Homo sapiens: one gene and its partners. The protein of the gene in region 6 purifies or fractionates together with the protein of the main gene of each other region. This does not show direct contact. Each region holds a gene or a part of one and is shown on either strand. Other genes may lie near its edges.

What was found.
Region 1: the proteins of VCAM1 (region 6) and STAT5B purify together in Homo sapiens (affinity purification with mass spectrometry, with the first as the bait; one large-scale study listed by BioGRID). This does not show direct contact.
Region 2: the proteins of VCAM1 (region 6) and ACAT1 purify together in Homo sapiens (affinity purification with mass spectrometry, with the first as the bait; one large-scale study listed by BioGRID). This does not show direct contact.
Region 3: the proteins of VCAM1 (region 6) and PODXL2 purify together in Homo sapiens (affinity purification with mass spectrometry; 2 studies listed by BioGRID and IntAct, with this or other methods). This does not show direct contact.
Region 4: the proteins of VCAM1 (region 6) and FANK1 purify together in Homo sapiens (affinity purification with mass spectrometry; one large-scale study listed by BioGRID and IntAct). This does not show direct contact.
Region 5: the proteins of VCAM1 (region 6) and ATP1A3 purify together in Homo sapiens (affinity purification with mass spectrometry; one large-scale study listed by BioGRID and IntAct). This does not show direct contact.
Region 7: the proteins of VCAM1 (region 6) and RAVER1 purify together in Homo sapiens (affinity purification with mass spectrometry, with the first as the bait; one large-scale study listed by BioGRID). This does not show direct contact.

What each region holds. Positions count from the first base shown.
Region 1 is NC_000017.11:42,220,892-42,224,391, reverse strand, and holds part of STAT5B (signal transducer and activator of transcription 5B), read left to right. Parts: intron 1-835; coding exon 836-1,010; intron 1,011-3,500. UniProt on the Homo sapiens protein: Carries out a dual function: signal transduction and activation of transcription. Mediates cellular responses to the cytokine KITLG/SCF and other growth factors. Binds to the GAS element and activates PRL-induced transcription.
Region 2 is NC_000011.10:108,131,567-108,135,066, reverse strand, and holds part of ACAT1 (acetyl-CoA acetyltransferase, mitochondrial isoform b precursor), read right to left. Parts: intron 3,161-3,500; coding exon 3,113-3,160; intron 1,248-3,112; coding exon 1,130-1,247; intron 847-1,129; coding exon 751-846; intron 1-750. UniProt on the Homo sapiens protein: This is one of the enzymes that catalyzes the last step of the mitochondrial beta-oxidation pathway, an aerobic process breaking down fatty acids into acetyl-CoA.
Region 3 is NC_000003.12:127,642,685-127,646,184, reverse strand, and holds part of PODXL2 (podocalyxin-like protein 2 precursor), read right to left. Parts: intron 1-3,500. UniProt on the Homo sapiens protein: Acts as a ligand for vascular selectins. Mediates rapid rolling of leukocytes over vascular surfaces through high affinity divalent cation-dependent interactions with E-, P- and L-selectins.
Region 4 is NC_000010.11:126,007,328-126,010,092, reverse strand, and holds the end of FANK1 (fibronectin type 3 and ankyrin repeat domains protein 1), read right to left. Parts: intron 1,687-2,765; coding exon 1,543-1,686; intron 1,040-1,542; coding exon 962-1,039; intron 872-961; coding exon 827-871; intron 721-826; coding exon 655-720; 3' UTR 501-654; downstream 1-500. UniProt on the Homo sapiens protein: Through the activation of JUN and AP-1-mediated transcription, may regulate apoptosis.
Region 5 is NC_000019.10:41,980,731-41,984,230, forward strand, and holds part of ATP1A3 (sodium/potassium-transporting ATPase subunit alpha-3), read right to left. Parts: intron 1,377-3,500; coding exon 1,178-1,376; intron 1,102-1,177; coding exon 992-1,101; intron 907-991; coding exon 772-906; intron 1-771. UniProt on the Homo sapiens protein: This is the catalytic component of the active enzyme, which catalyzes the hydrolysis of ATP coupled with the exchange of sodium and potassium ions across the plasma membrane.
Region 6 is NC_000001.11:100,718,320-100,722,541, reverse strand, and holds the start of VCAM1 (vascular cell adhesion protein 1 isoform a precursor), read right to left. Parts: upstream 2,801-4,222; 5' UTR 2,682-2,800; coding exon 2,618-2,681; intron 2,067-2,617; coding exon 1,791-2,066; intron 1-1,790. UniProt on the Homo sapiens protein: Cell adhesion glycoprotein predominantly expressed on the surface of endothelial cells that plays an important role in immune surveillance and inflammation.
Region 7 is NC_000019.10:10,320,030-10,323,529, forward strand, and holds part of RAVER1 (ribonucleoprotein PTB-binding 1), read right to left. Parts: coding exon 3,346-3,500; intron 3,246-3,345; coding exon 3,116-3,245; intron 2,711-3,115; coding exon 2,616-2,710; intron 1,590-2,615; coding exon 1,502-1,589; intron 1,231-1,501; coding exon 1,019-1,230; intron 923-1,018; coding exon 626-922; intron 1-625. UniProt on the Homo sapiens protein: Cooperates with PTBP1 to modulate regulated alternative splicing events. Promotes exon skipping. Cooperates with PTBP1 to modulate switching between mutually exclusive exons during maturation of the TPM1 pre-mRNA.

The DNA of each region.
Region 1 (3,500 bases), on a different chromosome or scaffold from region 6:
CTCATGGGTGATGGAGTGAGACCCTGTCTCAAAAAAAAAAAAATGAAATAGAAGATGTGGTCTCTGATCTTAACTGATTTATAACCTTGATGAGATTGCAACCACAAGACAATGTGAACAAGTGCAAAGTAATTCAACCTCAGCTGAATAATTTTTTAGTAAAGGCATGCTCATATTCAGGTGAGAATACTTAGGAAAGACTTTTCCCTAGCCCCTGAATCAGGTGTGGAAGGAGTGGTCTGATCAGGTCACTTACAGGGCTGGGTCCACAGAGACCTTGTTTATGCCTCCCCCATCACTTCACCCTGGGGTCTCCAGGATGCCTGCAAGAGGTTTGGCCTCTTCCATGGTGGAAGCAAATGATTCCATCACGAGAATATCTTGAGTGAGGACACAGATGATGTGTGTTCACATGGCCCTGCTCCCCATGGCCTCCCTAATGCTTAATGCCGTCCTTGCATTGGGTCAGTGAGTGGAAGAGGAATCACTCCACCTCCTCATTAGTAGGAAAACCCAGGTGACACTGGACCAGGTTACGTTCTAGTTTCTCCAAAGGTAATTCAATGGACCTCGTTTGGAATACTCTGGTGGAGGTCAGATCTGAAATGGAAGCTTCTCCCATGCTTTGTGATCTGAGCCATGATCTGTCCGCTCACCTGTTTCTCACTTTTCCCACTCCACCCTGTGTCTCATGATGACGTTTGCTTTTCCTCCCGACTCAAAATTTACCTTTTGGGGTCTTACCCTGGTTGTAGGAGCTGGCTTTTCCTGGGGATTAAGGCCTCAGTCTTCCTCCCATTCGCACTGCCTTGCACTGCCCCCCATATGTTCCCAGGGTAGCTCTCCAGCTGGAAGCCTTGCTGATGCCATGTCCCAGAAACACCTCCAGATCAACCAGACGTTTGAGGAGCTGCGACTGGTCACGCAGGACACAGAGAATGAGTTAAAAAAGCTGCAGCAGACTCAGGAGTACTTCATCATCCAGTACCAGGAGAGCCTGAGGATCCAAGGTGAGGCGCGGTGGAGGCACATTGTGCAACTTGAGGATTGGGCCTGGGGACTGGAAAGCAGCTCTGGTGGGGTTGGGAGAAAGCACACTTTCCATTCGGAGGCAGCGACCTTTCTCTGAGTAGCAGGGACTTATTTGCATTGAAGACAGTGCTGAGAGGATGAGATTTAGGAAGGGGAGATGACAGGACCCCCCGCTTAAGTGCATATCTCACTCAGGTCCCCACATCCAGGGAGCTTCTGAGCTGCCAGGGAAGACATTTCTTCTTTTGAGAAGGAGCTCACAGTCTAAATAAATACTAGCAAACAATACTTTTGTATATAGTAGGCATATTATAAGTGGAGCTTTATTGAAATGATAAATAGGAAATTATATAATTACATGTTTAAAAATTTTTCTGGCTGGGCACGGTGGCTCACACCTGTAATCCCAGCACTTTGGGAGGCTGAGGCAGGCGGATCACCTGAGGTCAGGAGTTCGAGACCAGCCTGGCCAACATGGTGAAACCCCGTCTCTACTAAAAATACAAAATTAGCTGGGCATCCCAGTGGCGCATGCATGTAATCCCAGCTACTTGGGAGGCTGAGGCAAGAGAATCTCTTGAACCCGGGAGGCGGAGGTTGCAGGGAGCCGAGATCTCACCATTGCACTCCAGCCTGGACAAAAAGAGCAAAATTCTGTCTCAAAAAAAAAAAAAAAAAATTCTAAGCTGGGAGTGGTTTTGCACACCTGTAATCCTGGTGCTTTGGGAGGCCAGGGCAGGAGGATCACTTGAGGCCAGTAGTTTCAGACTAGCTTAGGCAACATAGTAAGACCCTATCTCTAAGGGGGAAAAGAAACCTTTCTAAGCAGGTACGTGTAAGTACTAAGGACCTGTATATGATTTCTAATGTTCTATGCAGTTATTCACAGAGGTCTTCCTGAAACAGAGTACACTTAACGCCCCTTAGGTAGCCCTTATGGACAGAGCTTCCCTAGCCTGGTATAAATCCTGCTTAGTAGTTGGGGCACAGAGAGCTTCAGTCTGTGGTGAGGCTGTGGAGCCCCACCAGCGCCCCCTTTTGACCCTGTAGCAGTTTGGCAGTTTGAGCTTTAATAGTTTCCTCTCTGCTTCCATGCCCAGCTCAGTCTCAGAGAAGCCTTGGCTCAACCACCCAGCCCCTCCAAACACACACACACACAGCACACACAGACAACACAGCACACACACACACCACACACATCACACACACAGCACACACACACACAGCACACACACCCCCCACAGCACACAGAGACACACAGTGCACACACACAGCACACACACACCACACACAGCACACACACAGACACACAGCACACACACACCACACCACACACACCACACCACACACAGCACACACACACCACACCACACACAGCACACACACACCACACATAGCACACACACACACCACACATACACACCACACACACATAGACACACAGCACACACACACACACACAGCACATGCTCCTCTAATTCCATGTATGTAGGTTCCATTTTATGTCTATAGTGATACTACTTATTTACTCTTTATCTTCTCCACTGGAATATAAATCTTTGAGAAGGGACTATATCTTTTATCTCTGTACCCTGAGGCCAGCACAATGCCTGAAACATAACAGTTATTGAGTAAAGGTTGACAGGATGATTCTAGCCTGTCTTCCTTTTTTATCTGAATCCATCCTAGACTGGCCCTAGAAGAAGGGCAGCTCCTTCAGAGAATGGAAACGGAAGATTTGGGATGGCTATTCCTACCCAAGTCCTTAGACTGTCAACAGTATTTCTGATCCCGTGCCTGGCTTTTCTGTTTCCTGTGCATGGTGGCGGATTAGGTTTGGATTCAGGTTGGGTTTGGATCTATCACGCAGTGTCTTCTCAGTCCCATTTGTCAAGTTCACTCAGCAGAAACACAGACTATTGATCTGCTTTTGCCAGGGAAGGCTCAGCTGCCTCCAGTGGAGTAGGGAAATTGCTTCCCGTCTCCCTGGCCTCCTTCCCAAAAGCTTCTGCAAATTTCCAGGAGAGCCCTAAGTGGGTCCCTTGCATAGGAAGGCTGGGCCCAGGTGTTGGGATCACCACCACCCTCCCTGTGGCTGGGCAGGATTCCTGAGGTAGCCGTGCAGATACCTTGGATCTGTCCGTCCCTGGATGATCCTCTTCCTGCTCGATACCTGCAGTGAGATTGGAGCCATATTTCTGAGTTCTAGCTCTGGGCTGTTCCTGGCTACATAGAGTTGCTTTTGTCTGTCCCAGCTTGTGCATCCCATGGGTCAGGGCTGGGGTCAGAGTGACGTGGCCCTCAGGGGCCAGCCAGGAGCTCGACCAAGACATGCTGGTGCGCGCATCTTCTGACTCAGCTCAAGCAAGGACTCTGGGCTGTTGAGAAGGTGATGGGAAGGGATTAATAGTCCCAGTGTGGTGGAGACGGGCTGTCGCTGGGAGGGTGGGGTGGGCCTGCGGTGGTGG
Region 2 (3,500 bases), on a different chromosome or scaffold from region 6:
TAAACTACAACATTTCTTCTGCCAATATAACTACAAATTATATCATGCATTTAATATTTCATTTAAGCTTAAATAACCTTCATTTTGCCATTTTATACTTTTTTTTTTTTTTTTTTTTTTTTGAGACGGAGTCTCACTCTGTCCCCCAAGCTGGCGTGCAGTGGCGCGATCTGGGCTCACTGCAAGCTCCACCTCCTGGGTTCACGCCATTCTCCTGCCTCAGCCTCCGGAGTAGCTGGGACTACAGGTGCTGGCCACCACGCCCAACTAATTTTTTGTATTTTTAGTAGAGACAGGGTTTCGCTGTGTTAGCCAGGATGGTCTCAATCTCCTGACCTCGTGATCCACCCGCCTCGGCCTCCCAAAGTGCTAGGATTACAGGCGTGAGCTACCATGCCCAGCCTTTTTTTTTTTTTTTTTTTTTTCTTTCAGACAGAATCTCACTCTGTCGCCCAGGTTGGAGTGCAATGGTGCAATCTTGGCTCACTGCAACCTCCGCCTCCTGGGTTCAAGCGATGCTCCTGCCTCAGCCTCCCAAGTAGCTGGGATTAGTGCACCACCACACCTGGCTAATTTTTGTATTTTTAGTAGAGACGGGGTTTCACCATGTTGGCCAGGATGGTCTCCATCTCTTGACCTCGTGATCCGCCTGCCTCGGCCTCCCAAAGTGCTGGGATTACAGGCATGAGCCACCGCACCCGGCCCCTTTTACACATTTTAAGTATAAAAGCAAAAAAGTCTTCCAGGTACCTGCACCCAATACTGCCTGCCTTGTAGGAGCTTGTCCTTCACCTCCTTGTAGAACATTACCCATGTATGCTTCTTTCACTTCTTCTTTTGGAATCCCTTTATTAAAAAAAAAAAAAGTCAAAAAGGCATTTAATTCAATTTAATAATCAGTGATTACCTAATAAGGTAGGTGACATTACACAATAGGAATGGTTTCTTTTTTTTGTCAGTTTTGAGTTTCAATCTAAACTGTATAGTACAAAGACTTCTTTACAAGGGAAAGCAGAAATGTAGGCATTAAGTTATTTCTAAGTGTTACATACATAGTTAATGCAAAATAAATATCTTTTCCATGGAATCTTTTTGCTCCCTTAACACAAAAAGCCAAGTAACTACTGACCTGCCTTTTCAATGGCTCCCTGAATTGCAATGGAACCAAGCTTAGTGGCTGGCAGCAAGGAAAGGCTGCCTAAAAAAGATCCAATGGGTGTTCTTGTAGCACTTACTATGACCACTTCCTGGCAAGACACAAGATGGTAAAAATTATAGGTATTTTACCCAAATCGTATTTCATTAAATAAACATAAATATATTATCAAAAAAACACTTCTATGAATGAGTCATCAAAAATTAATCTCAATAGTTGAACAGCTGTCAAGATAATCAGTTCAATGCTAGTGCTTTATGATTTAAGACCTTATAGAAACCAACTCTAAAACAGATGTAGATCCTTCCCAGTTCTCTACAGGAGGTTTGAGGACAGAAGCTTAAGTTTCCTTTCTATTCCTCAGTCAAAATTCAAGAAATGATCACTGTACCTTGTTTTTTTGTTTGTTTTTGTATTTTTGTTTTTGAGACAGGGTCTTGCTCAGCTGCCCAGGCTGGAATGCAGTGGCACAATCATAGCTCATTGCAGCTCAAACTCCTCAGCTCAAGCAATCCTTCTGCCTCAGCCTACCAAAGTGCTAGGATTAAGGGTATGAGCCACCACACTCAGCCACTTTACTCTTGTTAACTGCATAATAAACAACTCTAAGAGGGTCCCTTACTGAAAGGAACTCTGGCTAGGAATCAAGACCTGTATCCTAGGTGGGGCAATACCACTTAACTAGGACAGAGCCAGGGCCAGAATTTCTTTTTTTATATGTAATTTGAGATGGAGTCTCACTGTGTCACCCAGGCTGGAGTGCAGTGGTATGATCTTGGCTGACTGCAACCTCTGCCTCCCGGGTTCAAGTGATTCTCCTGCCTCAGCCTCCTGAGTAGTTGGGATTACAGGCATCTGCAACCACACCCGGCTAATTTTTGTATTTTTAATAGAGATGGGGTTTTGCCATGTTGGCCAGGCTGGTCTTGAACTCCTAACCTCAGGTGATCCACGCACTTTGGCCTCCCAAAGTGCTGGGATCACAGGCATGAACCACTGTGCCCAGCCAGAGCCATAATTTCTTTTTTCTTTTTTTTTTTTTTTTTTTTTTTTTTTTGAGATGGAGTTTTGCTCTGTTGCCCAGGCTAGAGTGCAGGCACGTGATCTCAACTCACTGCAAGCTCCGCCTCCCGGATTCACGCCATTCTCCTGCCTCAGCCTCCCGAGTAGCTGGGACTACAGGTGCCTGCCACCATGCCCACCTAATTTTTTGTATTTTTAGTGGAGATGGGGTTTCACCGTGTTAGCCAGGATGGTCTCGATCTCCTGACCTCGTGATCCACCTGCCTCGGCCTCCCAAAGTGCTGGGATTACAGGTGTGAGCCACCGCACCCGGCCCAGAGCCATAATTTCTTAAACAGTAAGACAATAATATGAACTTTAAGCAAAAGAAGATAAAAGCTCTCTTGAATACTATAAAACAGCACTGTGACAGTTCTCTCCTTACACTTGTCTTCCACAATCTCCTATTAAGTTTAGAGATAAATAACAGAATGGTTGCTTAGATTTTGATAGAAGATCTTAACTAAGTCACTTTAGTGACCCTTACAAAACAGAGACTCTTCAGAAGGTCCTAGGAGATGCTGTAATGGCCCTCCTTGTCTAATTCCCAACTGGTCCACTCCCTCTCTTCTAGGATCTTCTATACAGTCTCTGCTTGTACCACACACAATACAATGCGAGTCCCTGTGAGTAAAAGAAGAACACTGCCCAGTTCTAGAGGGAATGTTGTTTTGTAGCAGACTATAAGGAAGCAACAAACATTGGCAGAGACTAACTGACATGTTTTTCTATTATAGTCATCTACTTTAACTGAATATTTGAATAGTTAGCTATTCCTAACTGTTACATAATCCTGCTTTGACTTTCACATGTATCCAAATCATAAGTATATGCATTTTTATTGACATTTCCTTTAAATTCTGGAAATTTTAAAGCACAATTTAAATTACTTACCTTCAAAGTGGGTTTTGATACATAACTCCGTTCCACATATCTTATTTCCTGTAATATAAATATTTATAATGTTATAATGTAAAAAATATTAAACTATATCATTTTATATTTCTCAGTGATAAGGTTATAGTGGTTTCTTCCTGCATCCTTATGCTTTTATTTCCAAGTTTTTTGTGGTCAGAATATATCACTTTTAACAATTAGAAAAAAATGACTGCTTTATAATAAACTTTTCTAATTAACTATTCATTGGAAATGTACGTTTTAACTCTTAAGTTTACTATCTTAAAATTTCCAAGTCTTGGCCAGGCGTGGTGGCTCATGCCTGTAATCCTAGCATTTTGGGAGGCCAAGGTGGACGGATCACCTGAGGTCAGGAGTTCAAGAC
Region 3 (3,500 bases), on a different chromosome or scaffold from region 6:
GAAGTAAGAATATATACTTACATTTTTCAGTGGACGTTAAATGAGAACCCACAACCCCTAACATAGTGCTGGGCACATACTGGGTGTTGAATACATTGATTGATGTACTTGTACTTGATCTGAGATTGGCCTGTCTGCAGCATGGTTTTCAGCAGTCCCTGCTACTGCTGCATGGAGTTCAATGTCCCTAATGGCCATGTTAGGATAGCACTTGGCACAGTCAATCTGGACTCTGCAGGACTCCCAACCCAGGCATGCCCTCTCAAGGTTCTTTTGACTCCTCCAACCCCCAAGAGGTGATCCACCTCCTTCTCCCCAAGAACCCCTAGACAGAAGCCTGTGGCTCCGGGGCACAAGAGCAGACAAGAATAGGGGGGTAGGGCACGCCACTGTCCCCTGGGCTGCCTCCTACACCAGCCTGACTATTCGCTGTCAGCCTGCCACCTTAGCCACTTTCTCTTCTGTCATGTCCTAATCATATGCCATCAAGGTGCTGCAAGAAAACAGAAGCAGGGGTCACTAGCCTGATTTCAGGGCCACTGCCAGTACACGGAGATGTCCCCTCTGGGCAAATGAATTAGAAAAAGGTGCTCCTCCCACCCAGCCCATGGCCTGGTTGGCAGGGTGTATGCTGGACTTCAGCTCCAACTCCCATGCTCGGTCAGGAGCCCCGGACAGGGCACCACCAGCATAACCACGTGCACTGGTCCTGCTCATTGGTCAGAGCTGGCAAAAGCCTCTTGAAGCTAGTCCTCTTGAGCTAGGTACTCAAGGACGAATACATATCCACTAGCACATCAGGATGGAGAAGAGCTTCCCAGCAGATGGGACAAGAGGAACAAGTGCATCACAGGCTTAGGGAATAGGCCAGGCTGTTGTCAGTGAGAAGACACTGACTCTAGATCCAGCTCCATTACATCCAAGCAATGTGTCCTTGGGCAAAGCACCCTACTTCCCCATGCCTCAGTTCAACTCTGCCAAGCAAGGAAGAGAACAAGCTGATGATGAGCTAATCAGATGCATGCTGGAGCAAGGAAGGAGAAGAGGCTGGGGAAGGCTGGGGCCGGACTATCAAGAGCATTTTCTGCCATGCTAATAAGTTCAGCCTTTAACCTGTGGGCTTTGGGGTTTGAGAAGGGGTTTGTTTGCTAGTTTGTTTGAGAAGAAGATGGGCAACTCCAGTTTTTTCACAGGATCATGGTCAGGTAGTACAGAGAAGAGATTGACCTGAGGAAACGTAAGGCGAGGGGACAGGTCAAGAGAGGAGCAATGAGGGACAGGACTGAAGCAACTCTCCTCCCTGCACCTGCCTGGCCTCCTGGCCTCCTCCCTGCACCTCCTCTGCCTCCTGGCCTCCTCCCTGCACCTCCCTAGCCTTCTGCCCATCCTGGGTAGGGTGATTGGTATCTCCACCTCACAGCCAAGCTGTATGCAGCTGTGGTGAGGACTAGAGACAATCGAGGCAAAGGCCTATGCATAGCCGGTATTCAATGAATGAGAGCTATTTTTATTCTTATGAGACCTAGGGAAGGAAATGGGAGAGGAAGAGACATGAACTGAAAGAAAAAGAAAGGGAAACGAATCCCCTGGGGAGGGGGGAGGACAACAAATCGAGCTCATCAAGGCTTCAGGGCCCTCCACTGTGGTCCTGAGGCCAATGCTCTCTGCGTGACTGCTTACCTCACACTAGACGCTCAATAGTCTCAACAAAAGGGAAAGGCCAGAAAAAGACCCAATAATTGTCTGGTACAATGTAAAAGTTTGTTTAAATCATTCCTTGGCCAGGCACAGCGGCTCACACCTGTAATCACAATACTTTGGGAGGCTAAGGTGGGTGATCACTTGAGGTCAGGAGTTCAGTCAGCCTGGGCAACACGGTAAAACCCACCTCTACTAAAATTACAAAAATTAGCTGGGCATGGTGGCACGCCTGTAATCCCAGTTACCAGGGAGTCTGAGGCAGGAGGATCACTTGAACCTCGGAGGCAGAGGTTGCAGTAAGCAGAGATCACACCACTGCACTCCAGCCTGGGCAACAGAGTGAGACTCCATCTCAAAACAACAACAGCAACAAAATATCATTTCTTTAAAATGATAAGAGGACAGATTTATCAATGGATGCCGCCATGACAATAGATGATCTATATGGAGAAAATGAAATTAGATCCTTATCTTACACCACACACAAAAATAAATTACAGCTAGATTGGACTTAAATGTAAAAAATTAAGCTAAAGAATAGAAGGGGCCAGGCGTGCTGGCTCACACCTGTAATCCCAGCACTTTGGGAGGCTGAGGCAGGTGGATTGCTTGAGCCCAGGAGTTCAAGACCAGCCTGGGAAACATGGCAAAACCCTGTCTCTACAAAAAACAGAAAAATTAACCAGGCGTGGTGGGGTACACCAGTAGTCCCAGCTACCTGGGAGGCTGAAGCAGGAGGATCGATTGAGCCCAGGAGGTCAAGGCTGCAGTGAGCTGAGATTGTGCTGCTGCACTCCAGCCTGAGGTACAAAGCGAGACCCTGTGTCCAAAAAATAAAAATAATTTTAAAAAAAGAATTTACATTAAAAAAAAAGAATAGAAGGAAGAAAGGTGCATGTATCTCAAGGGCAGAAAGTATTTTCTAATCATAAAGTAAAGAAAAACACATAAAAACATTTTAAAAGAAGTAATTTTGCTGGGTGTGGTGGCTCATGCCTGTAATCCCAACACTTTGAGAGGCTGAGGCAGGTGGATCACTTGAGATCAGGAGTTTGAAACCAGCCTGGCCAACATAGTGAAATCCCATCTCTACTAAAAATACAAAATTAGCTGGGCGTGGTGGCACATGCCTATAATCCCAGCTACTTGGGAAGCTGAGGTAGGAGAATTGCTTGAACTTGGGAGGCAGAGGTTGCAGTGAGCTGAGATCACACCATTGCACTCCAGCCTGGGTGACTAGAGCAAAACTCCATCTCGAAGAAAAAAAAAGTAATTTTAAGCTTATAAAATATTTAATTTCTTTATGCCAAAAATTATAATAAAAATACAAGCAGTTGACAAACTGGAAAAATGTTTTCTACGTATGTCAGAGGAAAGTTAGTATCCTTTTTCAGATTTGTACAGGGATAAGAAAAAATTAAAGACTCAATAGAAAAAAACAGGAAAGTAATAATAATAGCTAATAGTCACAGAGCACTTAACAATGTGCCAAGCACTGAGCTGAGTGCTCGAAATGTATGATGGTGTGTGAACCTCACAACCCTGTGAGGTAGGTATATAATTATCTCCATTTCCTAGATGGGAAACTGAGGCTTAGGGTTAGTTACTCGCCAAAAATTGCATCACTGTTAAATGACAGCACTGGAGCCTTCCTGACTCCAAAGCCTGTTCTCTTAACTACACTGTGCTTCAAATAAAAAAGAAGAGTGATAAGTGGTCACTATTTTTGTGTATATGTATATTCTATAGAATACACATATTCTGTATATAATGAACGTACACATATGTTTTGTACATAT
Region 4 (2,765 bases), on a different chromosome or scaffold from region 6:
ATACTACCCTTTGGCTACATCGTCCACCCATCAGCAGGCTGAGTCTTCCATTGTCAGGGCATGAGTATATGCAAACACATTAGACCTGTCTGTGGCCAAAAAGGCTGACCCTCAATCAGACACCTCCAATAGAACAGAATCAGAGTCCTGAAATATGTATTCTGAGCTTTGATGTGAGGCCAACAGCTGAAGAGAAAACTCCTGGGCTTTTCGGAGGAGCGCCACTCCAGGAGGGAGCAGCGGCCTGACAACCAGCCTGGAAGCCCTAAGTTGGGAGGGGAGGATTTAATTGAAAACACATGAGGGAAAGAATTCCAACAAGGCCTAGCATGGTAGAAGGACAGCTTGCGGGGCAGGAGCCGGGAGTGGGAGACCCCATGTGTGTTTGTGTAGCTCCGGTGCATAAATATTTTGTTTCATGTCTAACTCCAAAAGGCGCAAGTGCAAGAAAACATCCCCATTCTACAGACACCCAATGATGGTACCACATACGCACATGCTTAGGTAAAAAGATGTATTTCAAAGTGGGATCAGTGAATCTTCAACTAAATAAATAAATGTACAGCCCCCCAAGATGCAGAATTTCCCATCCCTAGTTTAACAGTCACGGTTCACTTTGTTTTACGTGCGTTTCGCAGATGAGTGGTGCTCTCATCAGCAGACACAAGACTTCTTTGGCCTCTGCTTTTTTTTCCTTTCTTCTAATAAGGAGACTACACTCTAGATAAACAAAACAGACAGGCGAATGTAATCCAGGGTTTTGGTGGTTTTTCTGAGTCTAGAAGGACTAAAAATTAGCCTTGATAGGCAGAAAGAGCATCCCAACCTGTCTGTCAAAAACTCTGGCCATTTCTAGGACACCTTTGCCGAACTGAAACAGGAAACAACAAAAATTTTACATGCTTATAAATGTTTTCTCCCCCTCCGAGGAAAATCTTTACATAAAGATGGACTCATTTACCTCATTTTTTACACTTGCATCTGCCCCTTTGTCAAGAAGTAACTGAACTAACTCTTCATGATTATTTAACACAGCCACCTAGAAAACAAAACCCAGGGTGGTGTGCATGAGCTTCTCCCTCCAGGGCACACACAGCAGGGGGCATGAGCCTGGCACATGCAGGGTCCCAGCAGCCCCCCTGCAACCCCAAAAGACCACTGTGGCTTTGCATGGCCTGCAGGCACAGCGCTTCCTCTGCAGCTGTATGGTAGCAACTCCAGAGAAAATGGAAAATGGACTCCCTCTATCCACACTAAAACCAGAACAGAAAGCAGCTTGTTCTTTGTTTCACCAGTTCTGTTTTGATCCCACAGTGGTCCTGGGGACAGGGGTTCTTTAGTCCTTAAATAGTTGTAAAAAGACAACGAAAGTATTCTAGTGACAGCCTCATGCCCTTATGAACAAGCCGACAGGGAACACACACACACAGTCAAACCCAAGGGCTGGTGCAGGGCTGAACTCACAAGAATTGTCTAATTACAGAAAAAGCTCTGACATTAATTCCACGTAGAAAACTGCCTATTTTCGGGAGGAGGACCTACCATAAGGGGCGTCTTTCCATTTCTGTCCTTCACATTCACATTGGCCCCAGCATCAATTAGAAGAGAGGCCACCCTCTGATTTCCCGACACCGCAGAGACTCTCATGAGTGGGGTCCATCCTGAACCAGTGTCCACGACGTCTACCTGTTGGGCCAGAGAAACAGCTGTGTTGAGCCCAATTTCTTTTTCTTAAAATGATTCAAACTTATAAAAGGAATATTTGCTTGCCCCAACACCCGGACTTAGATAGCCGTCTTTCTATATTTGGTTCATTGCACTGTGCTAATTTAAGTCACATTTTGGTGCTGAGAGGCCCCAGGGTCTCCCCACCGGCTTCTTCATCTACATCCTTTAAAGTGGAAAAAAGATGGGCTAGAAAAGTTAACTGAACTACTTTCCACTTGGCCCCTGGGGAGTTCTTATTTTCTCTTGCCTAACTTTCCTCACCTAGCATTCATTTTTCTTACTTTTATGTATTGTTGTAAGCAGCTTTACATCCTTTCTGGAACAAGACAGTAATAATATATATACACACTTATACTTACTAATACTTATCAATTTTAGGCAGGAGACCTACAGGTAAAATACAGAACAACCAGATTCATTACACAAACTCTGTCTGAAAAGTCTGACTAAAGGCTTCTCCAAAACAGTGTGCCCAGTAATCAGATGGCTGTTTCCTGATCATCTTCTCTACACTGAAATCTCTCAATTTAGTGTTTTAAAATAAATATTTTAGATTAAGAAAATGTAAATATTGTCGCTTCCAATTCCAATGAAGACATCGCCAATCCATGAAGAGTGGTGCTGAAGTAAAGACAGATACGTGTTTGTGCTCAGACACGCACACACACTCGTGTGTGCACACACGCATACCATGTGCACATAAGCACACATGAGCACGTGCACGCACACACACAATCTGTTACAGAAGAATTACTCAAAGATGATCCATAGCTTTAGTAAAACATCAGAATGGAAAAACAAACAAGGAATTTCCAGGAGATCTTGGGAGCACTTCAGGGTATTTCTACATATAAGATTATCCACTGTAACATGATTTGGATTTGCAGCTCTTCTTCATGCAAAGAACTAACCTGTGGGCAACACACTCCATTATATTTAAAGAATAATAAAATAAGCACCTCATATTACATGATGCTTTACACAGCTTTCAACCCTCTTTACACACACTTTCTCTTTTGGTCCTAAACGTTAATCAG
Region 5 (3,500 bases), on a different chromosome or scaffold from region 6:
GAAACCCCGTCTCTACTAAAAATACAAAAAATTAGCTGGGCATGGTGGCGGGCGCCTGTAGTCCCAGCTATTCTGGAGGCTGAGGCAGGAGAATGGTGTGAACCCGGGAGGTGGAGCTTGCAGTGAGCTGAGATCGCGCCACTGCACTCCAGCCTGGGTGACAGAGCGAAACTCTGTCTCAAAAAAAAAAAAAGTTTGCTGAATAATTTAAAGTTGCTGCTCTGCCCCAAGAGGTCTCCTGCTTGTTCCCACTCTCTGCTGTAGGAAAACTTTTTTTTTTTTTTTGAGTCAGGGTCTTGCTCTGTCACCCAGGCTGGAGTACAGTGCGTGATGTAGGCTCTCTGCAGCCCCAACCTCCCCGGCTCAGGCAATCCTCCTGCCTCAGACTCCCAAATCGCTGAGACCACAGGCACATACCACCACACCTGGCTAATTAAAAAAAAAATTTCGTACAGATGGGGTTTTGCCATCTTGCCCAGGCTCGTCTCGAACTCCTGGCCTCAAGTGATCCCCCCACCTCAGCCTCCCAAAGTTCTGGTGTTAAAGGTGTGAGCCACCGCGCCTGGCCTGCAGGAAGATCTTTACTCCTCAGCGTCTCACTCCAACAGAGATCCGGCTCCCACTCTCAAGCTCTCCCTGTTCCTCTCCCCACCAGGCGGGTATTATCATTCCCATTTTACAGACGGGAAAATCAAGGCTCTATGACACCTCTTTACAGGCGTCATAAGGAACCTGAGGTCCAGGCTGGCTCTCCCGGAAAGCCCAGAGTACCTGGTATTTGTTGGTGGAATTGAAGGGAATCTCAGCCACTTTCTTGTTGCGTTCACGCATCAGCTTCACGGAGCCAGAGGACAGCTCGATGCACTTGAGCAGGGCAGACTCAGACGCATCCCCAGCCACATCCCTCTGCAAGGAGAAAGGGTTGTCAGAACAGGGACAGCTGAGGGGAGGACACAGGCAGGGCCGAGGTGAGGCCAGTAGCTGAACCCACCTTGAGCACAGGGATGTTGTCCTGACCACCCTTGAAGACAGCGCGATTGCAGAGCCCAGCGATGTGAGACAGGGCCACCCAGGTGTGCGAACTCTTGTCAAATGAGGTCCCTGGGGGAGGCATGTGTGAGGGCCAGGGACTCCTGGAGCCAGGCCCCCATGGTCCTCACCCGGGGCCTGCGCTCACCTGACTGGTCCTCAGTGGTGTCAGCCTCGTGGATCTGGTTGTCAAACCACATGTGGGCGACTGTCATGCGGTTCTGAGTGAGGGTCCCTGTCTTATCTGAGCAGATGGTGGACGTGGAGCCCAGGGTTTCTACAGCCTCCAGGTTCTTCACCAGGCAGTTCTTCCGGGCCATGCGCTTGGCGGTCAGCGTCAGACACACCTGGAGGACGAGCAAGGGCAGGCAAGTTACAGGGACAAGCCCGGCAGCAGGGTTGGATGAGCGACACGAGGGCCACAGCCCAGCTGCCCAGCCCCCAGAGAATCCTGAGGGCCTGGAAAAGAATGAGGCAGCACCCAGCAATGCCACCCCCAATTCAGACCAATAGAAACAGGGCAGAGACACCCAAAGACAGGGACTAGAATGCTCATAGCAGCCACATGCATAATAGTGCAAAACAGCCAGGTGCAGTGGCTCACGCCTGTAATCCCAGCACTTTGGGAGGCCGAGGTAGGCGCATCACTTGAGATCAGGAGTTCGAGACCAGCCTGGCTAACATGGTGAAACCCCATCCCTACTAAAAATACAGAAATTAGCAGGGCATGATGGTACACTCCTGTCATCCCAGCTACTTGGGAAGCTGAGGCACGAGAACCCCTTGAACCCAGGAGGTGGAGGTTGCAGTGATCCGAAATCGTGACACTGCACTCCAGCCTGGGCAACAGAGTGAGACTCCAACTCAAAAAAAAAAAAAATTGTCCAAAACTGCAAACTACTCAAATGTCCACTAACAGCAGAAAAGATAAATTGTGGACAATGGAATACTAACATTGATAAAAACAAATACATTACTGCTGCCTGCACCTGCATGGGTGAACGTCAAAAACATGTTCAGCCAAAAAGAGCCAGAAATGAGTTCATACTGAATTATTCCGTTAATAGGAAGTTTGAACACAGGCAAAGTTAATCTATGCTGTTAGCAGCCAGATCAGGGGTTACCCTTGGGTTGGGGGGCAGGGGCTAAATAAGGTCTTGAGGGGGCTTCAGGGAGACGCAGTCTCGTTGCAGCTGACGTGATTCTGTTCAGTTTGCCCCAAATCATCAGACTATGTGCTCACAATATGCTTAATCCTTTGCGTATAAAAATCCATTTGACATAGGGTAGCATTCAACATTGCTAATATGGAAAACAGTAAACTTTTTTTTTTTTTGAGACACAGTCTTGCTCTGTCGTCCAGGCTGGAGTGCAGTGGCTCGATCTCAGCTCACTGCAACCTCCACCTCCCAGGTTCAAGCAATTCTTGTGCCTCAGCCTCCCAAGTAGCTGGGATTACAGGCGCCCACCATCACGCCTGGCTAATTTTTGTATTTTTAGTAGAGATGGGGTTTTGCCATGTTGGCCAGGCTGGTCTTGAACTCCTGACCTCAAGTGATCCACCCACCTCGGATTCCCAAAGTGCTGGGATTACAGGCGTGAGCCACCCTGCCCGGCCCTAATATGGAAAACTTCACATAAAACATTAAGTCAAAGAATGAAAGAGGAGAATGGTATTTCTAAGATAGTCCCTGCCATGCACCTTGAAGACAGCATTTAGTCAATATGCTCACAGCTGTCAGGCGGAACCTCACAGAGAATGGACTTCTGGGGTGAAGCTGGCAGCAAAGCAGCCAGAGAAAAAATTTTTAAAAATAATAATAATAATTATTATTATTATAATAATTATTATTATTATTATTTTCTTGAGATGGAGTCTCCCTCTGTCACACAGGCTAGAGTGCAGTGGTTCAATCATGGCCCACTACAGCCTCAACCTCCCGGGTCAGCCTCCCAAATAGCTGGAACTACAGACATGTACCACCACGCCTGGCTAATTTAAAAAAATTTTTTTTTTTTTTTTTTTTTTTTTGAGACAGAATCTCGCTTTTGTCGCCCAGGCTGGAGTGAGGTGGCACGATCTCGGCTCACTGCAAGCTCTGCCTCCTAGGCTCAAGCTATTCTCCTGTCTCAGCCTCCTGAGTAGCTGGGATTCCAGGCACCCATCACCACGCCTGGCTAATTTTTATACTTTTAGTAGAGATGGGGTTTTGCCATGTTGGCCAGTCTGGTCTCGAACTCCTGACCTCAGGTGATCCACCCGCCTCGGCCTCCCAAAGTCTTGGGACTACAGGCATGAGCCACTGCGCCCAGCCTTCACATTTTTTGGTAGAGATGGGTTCTTACTATGTTGTCCAGGCTTGTCTCAAACTCCTGACCTCAAGCAGTCCTCCTGCCTCAGCCTCCCAAACTGTTGGGATTAAAGGCGTGAGCCACTGCGCCAGGCTTATTATTTTATTTTATTTATTTAT
Region 6 (4,222 bases):
TGCTACTACAGATTTACATTATGTTACATCACATTTTCTTATTATAGTCAGGGCAGATATATTTCCATTTTACAGATAATGACTGTAAGCCTTGGAATGTCATTGCAAAGAATAGTTATTGTCAAGATATTCTAAGAAATGAGAAGACCAACTTTAAGTAATTAGCTTCTGAAAATGGTGCCTCTGACAGGAATTCATCCACCAGAAAGATACATTTGTGCAATCTTTATGTTCTGGAACACATATTTGCCTCCTGAAATGCCTAACTCACTATCCCAACAAGTGTTCCATTGAAGCTTCTAGTACAAGGAAATACACTACTTCACGTGGCCATTGCCTCCTTTGCAAGAGTTACCTTTTTCATTATGCATTATGATGAAGTAACATATTGGTGGATTCAAAACTGTGTAGCAAAAAGAATACAAAGGTCTCAACTCTAACCACTATTACAATCAAATGCGGAAAGGAGACAGAACTGTTATACATAATGAGAAACAGACACTCTTGGAGAAAAACCTCAGGCAAGATAATTAAAACCAGAAGCGTCTTCATTTCTCTTTCTTAAATCTTCAACTATTTGGTACTAGTGGGCAAAAGACAAAGGAGCTGGAAATTCTTTCCTATGTGAAGAAACATGGTATTTTTCATTTTTCCAGCAATAATTTCTGTCCCTCATATTCTGTAAGAAATGTTCCTCTAATCCACACAGTTCGATGTCAGGTAACATAAGAACTTGCTACTTTTCCCTGTATTTACATAAGGGAAGCTTTCAAGGAGCTCGGGAGGCTGCACAGACATAAACTATGCACATACAACCAGCATAATTGAAAGCAGCCGGCCAAGCACAGTTTCTTGGGAAGCTTGAGCAACACATGCGGTTTGTTGCAGAATCAATTAAGGTTACTGGGAAAAGTTGAGCTCCGGTACAATAAAACGAAACCAAAGTAATTATAATCAAATGAGGTCTTCATGAAGACATGACCGTAAATGGGTTCAGTTTTTTAGAAAGAGAGGCCATCAGTAACAAAAGGCAAATGATTTATGTCTGGTTAGTTTTTTACTCCTCTTGCTAACTTTGTTTGCTGAATGGAGAATGGAGTGGGATGCATTTTGTCAGGCTGGTAAACTAGGGACATCCACTCACTTTCATGAGGCAAATCTAGTTCATTATATAAATATCTTTGAAGTTGAGCGGTTGAGCACCAAGGCTTCATGGCACCAAAAAAACCAAAAAAAAATCCTAAATGTGTCAACACCAAAGTCAAATGATTGAAATGTTTCCAGATATTAACAATTATGTCTAAGAAGAACACTTTTATACTAATACATATTACTAATTATAGATCTACTTAATGTTTAAACTAATTTTAAGCATCAAATTGCATAAGAATAAATGAATAGAAAATCCCTGAAGGATGGAATTCATAAATCAATCAGACACATAAGCAAGTAAACATGTAAGGATGTAATCAAATGGAAATATTTTTTAATAAAACAAAAAGAAACTTAGAAATGATCATTTTACAGCTAAGGAAACCAGAGCCCAGAGAGGTTGAGTCTTATACATGGTCACTGTGTTTGTGGCAGAGGTAGAAATAGAAGCCAAGATTTGGATTCCTGCTCTCTCTCATGTTGGCCTTAGCTGTCCCTAGCTTTCCTGATGTTGTATGTTCTTTAGCCAAGAATCTGTACATGAATATCCATTTTAAAACTTTTTTTAAAATATCATTTTTAAAAAGTGATTTTAAAGTAAAATTGAGAGAAAAACAAAGATTTTCTAAAGCACTCACAGTAGATCTCCACCTGGATTCCTTTTTCCAATTTCCTAGATTCACAAGTTGCTGTGCACAGGTAAGAGTGTTCGTTCCCAAAACTAACAGGATTCATTGTCAGCGTAGATGTGGTCCCCTCATTCGTCACCTTCCCATTCAGTGGACTATCTATCTGGGTTCTCCAAGAGAAAAATGGGGACTCACAGCCTGTGGTGCTGCAAGTCAATGAGACGGAGTCACCAATCTGAGCAAGATATCTAGATTCTGGGGTGGTCTCGATTTTAAAAGCTTGAGCTGCAAAAGCAAAAAAAGACAGAAGCAAATTTACCACTAGTTTGTCTAGTATTCTCCTCCTTCTTCTCTGTATAATGTCTAAAATATGATCAGACTGATCTCTTTCCTAAGCTGCTTCAAACTAACTGCAAGGTAGCCAAAAAGCACCGAAGTCACTGCCAAAAAAGTTTATGGAATCATCTTCAGTAGAGAGAATTCTCAGTTCCAACCTTGATGCCCATTTATCAAAGCTGTTTTGTTATTTGCTAAGTTTGACCTCATTGTCAAGTATAGGAAACTAAAGAGACAGACCGACTAGAGACAGAATCCAAATTACTCAATTGCCTTTGGAAAAAAAGATACCAAAAACATCAATTTTCAGCTCTAACTATGACAGTACAATGGTATATAGCAAAACTCAATTGCATATTAAAAGTTAGACTAAATTAACTTTTCCTACTGTTTAAAATCCTAGTGTCTTTACTTCACTACTATCGCAAAACTGACTGAAGCCAAAACCAGGGCTAAAATTGAATGCTAACATTTGAAACAGATGAAGGGAAATAACTTACAAGCTGCAAACATTATCCAAAGTATATTTGAGGCTCCAAGGATCACGACCATCTTCCCAGGCATTTTAAGTTGCTGTCGTGATGAGAAAATAGTGGTTCCAAAACCCTTATTTGTGTCCCACCTGTGTGTGCCTGGGAGGGTATTCAGCTCCTGAAGCCAGTGAGGCCCGATGCAGATACCGCGGAGTGAAATAGAAAGTCTGTGCTTTATAAAGGGTCTTGTTGCAGAGGCGGAGGGAAATCCCTTCAAGGGGAAACCCAGGGCAGAGCCAGGGAAAAAAGTTTAACAGACACCCAGCCAAGTTCCACTATTAACCCCTTCAGTTGCTCTCACTGCTGAAGCTCCTCTCTCTGTCCTGGCAAAAGAAGACACTTCCAAGACTATAAAATACAGGCTTTTCCTCATCTTCGACTCCAAAAGGCTATCTTTACTGGAAAGATAAAGGACAATGCTGATTGCAGAATGAAGCTTTCTGAATCCAATGTGGGTTAAGGGGGTGGGGAGAGAAAAAATGGAGACAGAGTAGTAAATTCTACTCTGGTTTTTGAACTGGATAAATAACGACTATGCCATGTGAATTGATTTTCTCCATCAAGGAAATATGTTTGCAATTCTAAAAGAGATTAATTTTTTTCTCTTACAAGAGAAAGGAAAAAGTTATTTCTTTTGATGAGTCATTTTTTAAAAAAGGGACACCATAACTTCTTAGTTTTATATTTATTCATAAAAATAGTTCTTTTAGCAACAAACATCAACTTTTTGAAACTATTTTCTTGAGTAGAAAGTAAAGGACTGTAACTGAAATTGCTGCCAAAACAAGGGAAACAATTTTTTTTTGTTTTAGAAAAGTTACCAATAATTTGGTTAAATTGCTGGATAATTGGAATTTTTTTGCATACTTAAATGCAAGTGTATGGAATCCATCTGAAGTGGCAAATCTCTTGGGCTGTGAGATTTAACCGCAAACCCAGTTAAAAAATTAAAAATAATAGGTTTTTATTATAGGCAAGGGGACAATAACCAACTCTATGTTCCTTTTCCCCCCAGTGAAGTGCCTTTTTAAAAAAATCCCAATTAACTAACTGGCTTAGCCTTGCACACACATAGCCCAAGGCCTTGCAAAATGCTTGCCCATCAAAAAGAAACCGGAATAGCCACTTCCTTTTATTAAACACGTGCAGGTCTATCTCCCCCATTGGATCATCAGTTCCTCTCATGGTCAGGACCAGTTCTTGTTCATTGTTGTATCTACTTCTACAATATCTAATGCATGATTTTCCACTTAGTGGATACAAAAAATGCAATAATAAACGTTATACATTTGGAGAAGAAAATTCTAAATACTAGCAATAATATGTAAATACGGCATGAAAAAACTGTTAAATTCTACAAGAAAATTCTAAAGCTCAGAGACTCAATGGGATGTGTACAATAAACTTGTACTATATAACATTTGTACTCTGTAACAAAGGCCATAGCTGAGGTCTGGAATCTATAACTGTCCCTACCTGGTTGGAGAGGCTTCTGGATCTCCTCTTGGATACTGATGTGGCTCCCACTAAAAGACAAGGAGGGAAAAATAAGTTGGAGATGCTGTTCTAGGG
Region 7 (3,500 bases), on a different chromosome or scaffold from region 6:
GGGATAGAAAGGGCAAGCCCTGTCTCTGGGGAGAGACAGTGTGGCCTAAGTCCTCTTGGGAGAGAAAGACAGACGCAGGATGACAGACAGACTGAGACCCAAGATCCTCCAGGGCTCGAGAATGGACAGACAGGCAGGTGGACCGGAAGCAGGGGGTGATGTGCAGACAGACGGGAAACTTTAAGGGCATGAGGCTGGGCGCGGTGGCTCTTGCCTGTAATCCCAGTACTTTGGGAGGCTGAGGCGGGTGGCTCACTTGAGGTCAGGAGTTTGAGACCAGCCTGGACAACACAATGAGACTCCGTCTCTACCACAAATTTAAAAATTAGCTGGGCATGGAGGTGCGTGCCTGTGGTCCCAGCTCCTCAGGAGACTGAGGTGTGAGGATCGCTTGAGCCCAAGAGGTTGAGGCTGCAGTGAGCTATGATCGCACCACTGCACTCCAGCCAGGGCAGCAGAGGGAGACCCTGTCTCTAAAAAAAAAAAAAAAAAAAAGCAGAGACCATATCTGGCACGTTCCCTGCCGCCTCCCTAGCACATGGCCTGGCATAGTCAATCCTAGAGAAATATCAGTTTGGAGAATGATTTGGCCTTAGGGGACAGAGAGCTGCAGCCAGGCACTCACCGAGGGGTAGTCGAAGCTGTAGCTGTCAGACAGTCCTGGTTCGGGGGGCAGGCGGGCGCTGCTGAGGGGGCTGAGCAGGCGGGACTTGAGCTGGAAGGCTTTGCTGCTGCTGCTGCCACCTCCAGGGGCTGGGGGGTTAGTTGGGGGGCCCTCAGCTGGGCGGCGGCTTCTCCCGGCGCCTCCCCAGCCCCGGGCCTCCTTACCCGCCAGGTTGCTGGCCGGGAGCAGGCTGTGTAGGTTCAGGTAGGGATTCAGGGGAATCCGGTAGTCCTTGGGGGGCTCCCCCAGCAGTGAGACCTGTGGCGGGAAGGCAGGATTCGAGAGGGCCCCCGGGAGAGGGAACCCTGCGGAACAGGAGGCTGGTGTGGTGCCGCGCGCAGGGCAGGGCCTTACCCCAGGGGGCGTCGGCAGAGGCCCACTGTCTTTCTGGAGGCCTCTGAGGCCAGAGCCTCGGAGCCCCACAGGGGCGGGGGGAGGAGTGAGCTGGGCCGCTGGGGGACCCAAGCCCAGGGCCTCCCGGTCACCCCCAGCAGGGCCAAGCACGGATGGCAGCAGGGGTGGTGGCTTCCCTCGCCGGGGCGGCAGCTCCGGGGGCAGGCCCCCTCCTAGGGAGGGAAGGAGGATTTCAGGGGCCCAGGCTCACAGGACCCCTCTCCCCAGGGCCCTCCAGCTCCCACCTGGACCAGGGCCCAGGGGTCAAGAGACAAATCCATGCTGGCCACTGAGCAGAGCTCATCCCTGGGCCCTGAGTGGAGGGCACCCAACTGATGGACAAGGGCGCTGGGACCCAGAGGTTGGGTCACTCACCCGAGGCCACGTAGCAGGGAAGGAAGGGGAAGTGGCTGGGGGACACCGTGTGGGCAGGGTCTGCGTTACCTGCAGGCAGCTCCCCGAGGAGGGGGTTGGCTGGCTGGGCCCCAGGCTGGAGGGCGCCCAGGGGTGAGTCTCCCAGGATGCCGGGCTTCTAGGGACAGAGCACAGACAGTTGCAGATGGGGGCAGGGTGGCCCAGGGAAGCAGACAGGTGTGGCCCAGAGTCTTGGCAGACACACCCCAACTCCAGGGCACGGCCGATCCTGGGCAGACAGGCACAGGGTTCCCCAGTGCCCGCCACACTCCAACTCTATCACTGTCCCATCAGCCATGGTGACCGAGGGTCTCCTGAGCTCCAGGCCCCAGTTCCCTGGCCAATGATTGCAGCACAGTATCAACTGCAGCCACATGGAATGGGACAGCCACACAGTGTTTCAGCCACTTTTAGTCACAGAAGGCCAGACCCACAGGCTCACATATTCTGTCAGTTACCACCAGACAGACACACCTGACTTAGAATCCAGGGAACCACACCAGACAGGACGGAGCATGGGTGTATGTCTATGTGTGTGTGTGTCTGTGTGTGTGTGTGCGTGTATATCTGTGTCTTTGTTTCTGTGTGCATGAGTCTGTCTTGTGTCTATATGTGTGTCTGTGTCTATGTGTGTGTCTTTGTCTTATGTCTTTGTGTGTCTATGTCTCTGTGTGTATATTTGCATCTTTGTATGTGTGAGTCTATATGTATACCTGTGTTTCTAGGTGTGCGTGTGTGTGTGTGCACACACTGAGGGGATAGACCTGGAGTTTTTTCCCAGGCATGTCTATAGAGCTTCCGAGCAGAGTCTATTCACAAACTGGTGCCCAGCAGCGGCGCTCCCAGCCCACACCCAGTTTCAGGCTGTAAATGGGCGTGTCCAGGTCCCCTGACCCCACCCCAGGCACCAAGTCCAGGGGCGCTCTCAGAATGGAGGGAAAGATGGCGAACCATCATGAGCAATTGCCAGAGGGGGATGGGGATGTGGGTGGGAAAGGCAGGGGTTTGGGGGAGTCGCCCTCACCCTGGTTCTGCGCCCCCAGGGCACAGCCAGAGGTCCCCCCACCCCACCGATCGCACCAGCTGTGTTGAAAAGAGCCTGTAGGGGCTGTAGAGCAGTGGGTGAGGGGGATGCGTGTGTTACCTTCTGGCCCTGGGTCTGCAGGGCGAGCTGCAACAGCGCCGTGGACAGGGCTGGCCCATTGAGCAGCGGCATGGCTGGGGGGGCACCCAGGAGGCCTGGAGGGAGACATAGGAGGATGTGTGGGGGTCCCTGTGTCCTCCCTGCCCCACCTCACGAAACACAGCCCTGAACCCATTGATGGGGCAGGAAACTGACACTCTGGGGCCGGGGGGTGGGCAGTGGACTTGCCCAAAGGAAGGGCCTAGAAGGGGCAGAGGCTACTCCAGTGAAGGTCAGCCCCCTCTTGTCAGCACCCCACCTCACTGCAGGCTGCTGTGTGGCCCTGGTCCCGGCCCCCAGTTGTGGACAGCAGCAGCCCCCGCTATGACTCCATACTCCCCCTCGGCCCTACTCCTGGGGCTCCTGTCACTGCAGCCAAGATGAGCAGTTTCGGGAAGTGCCGGGGGCAGCGCTGCAGCCCCTGTTCTGCACAGTGGGGCCCCTGTCCAGCCCCACCTTACCCTGCTTCCCCCCCGCACTGCCATGGAGCAGGGGGTTGAGCAGCAGCTGGAGGGACGCGGATGGGCCCAGGTTGTTGAGCAGCTGCAGGATGTTGGGCTCGGGGAGGAGTCCCTTCCCCCGATTGAGGGCCTGCAGGAAGGAACAGAAGCAGCTCAGAGTGCCGCTGGGGCCCTGACATCCCCATGGGGCTCCCATCCCCACCCCGCCACCTCTGCCCGCACAGGCTCACCGTGGCCTGGGCAGCGATGAGAGCGGCCAGCATACTGCGGCCGGGGGGCCCAGGGGCGCAGAAGGAGACTCGCAGGTGGCTGCCCCCCAGGGACAGGCCGTCCGCCTGCTGCTGTGCCTCCTCCGCCATCTCAGCCGTCTCATACTCCAGCACCG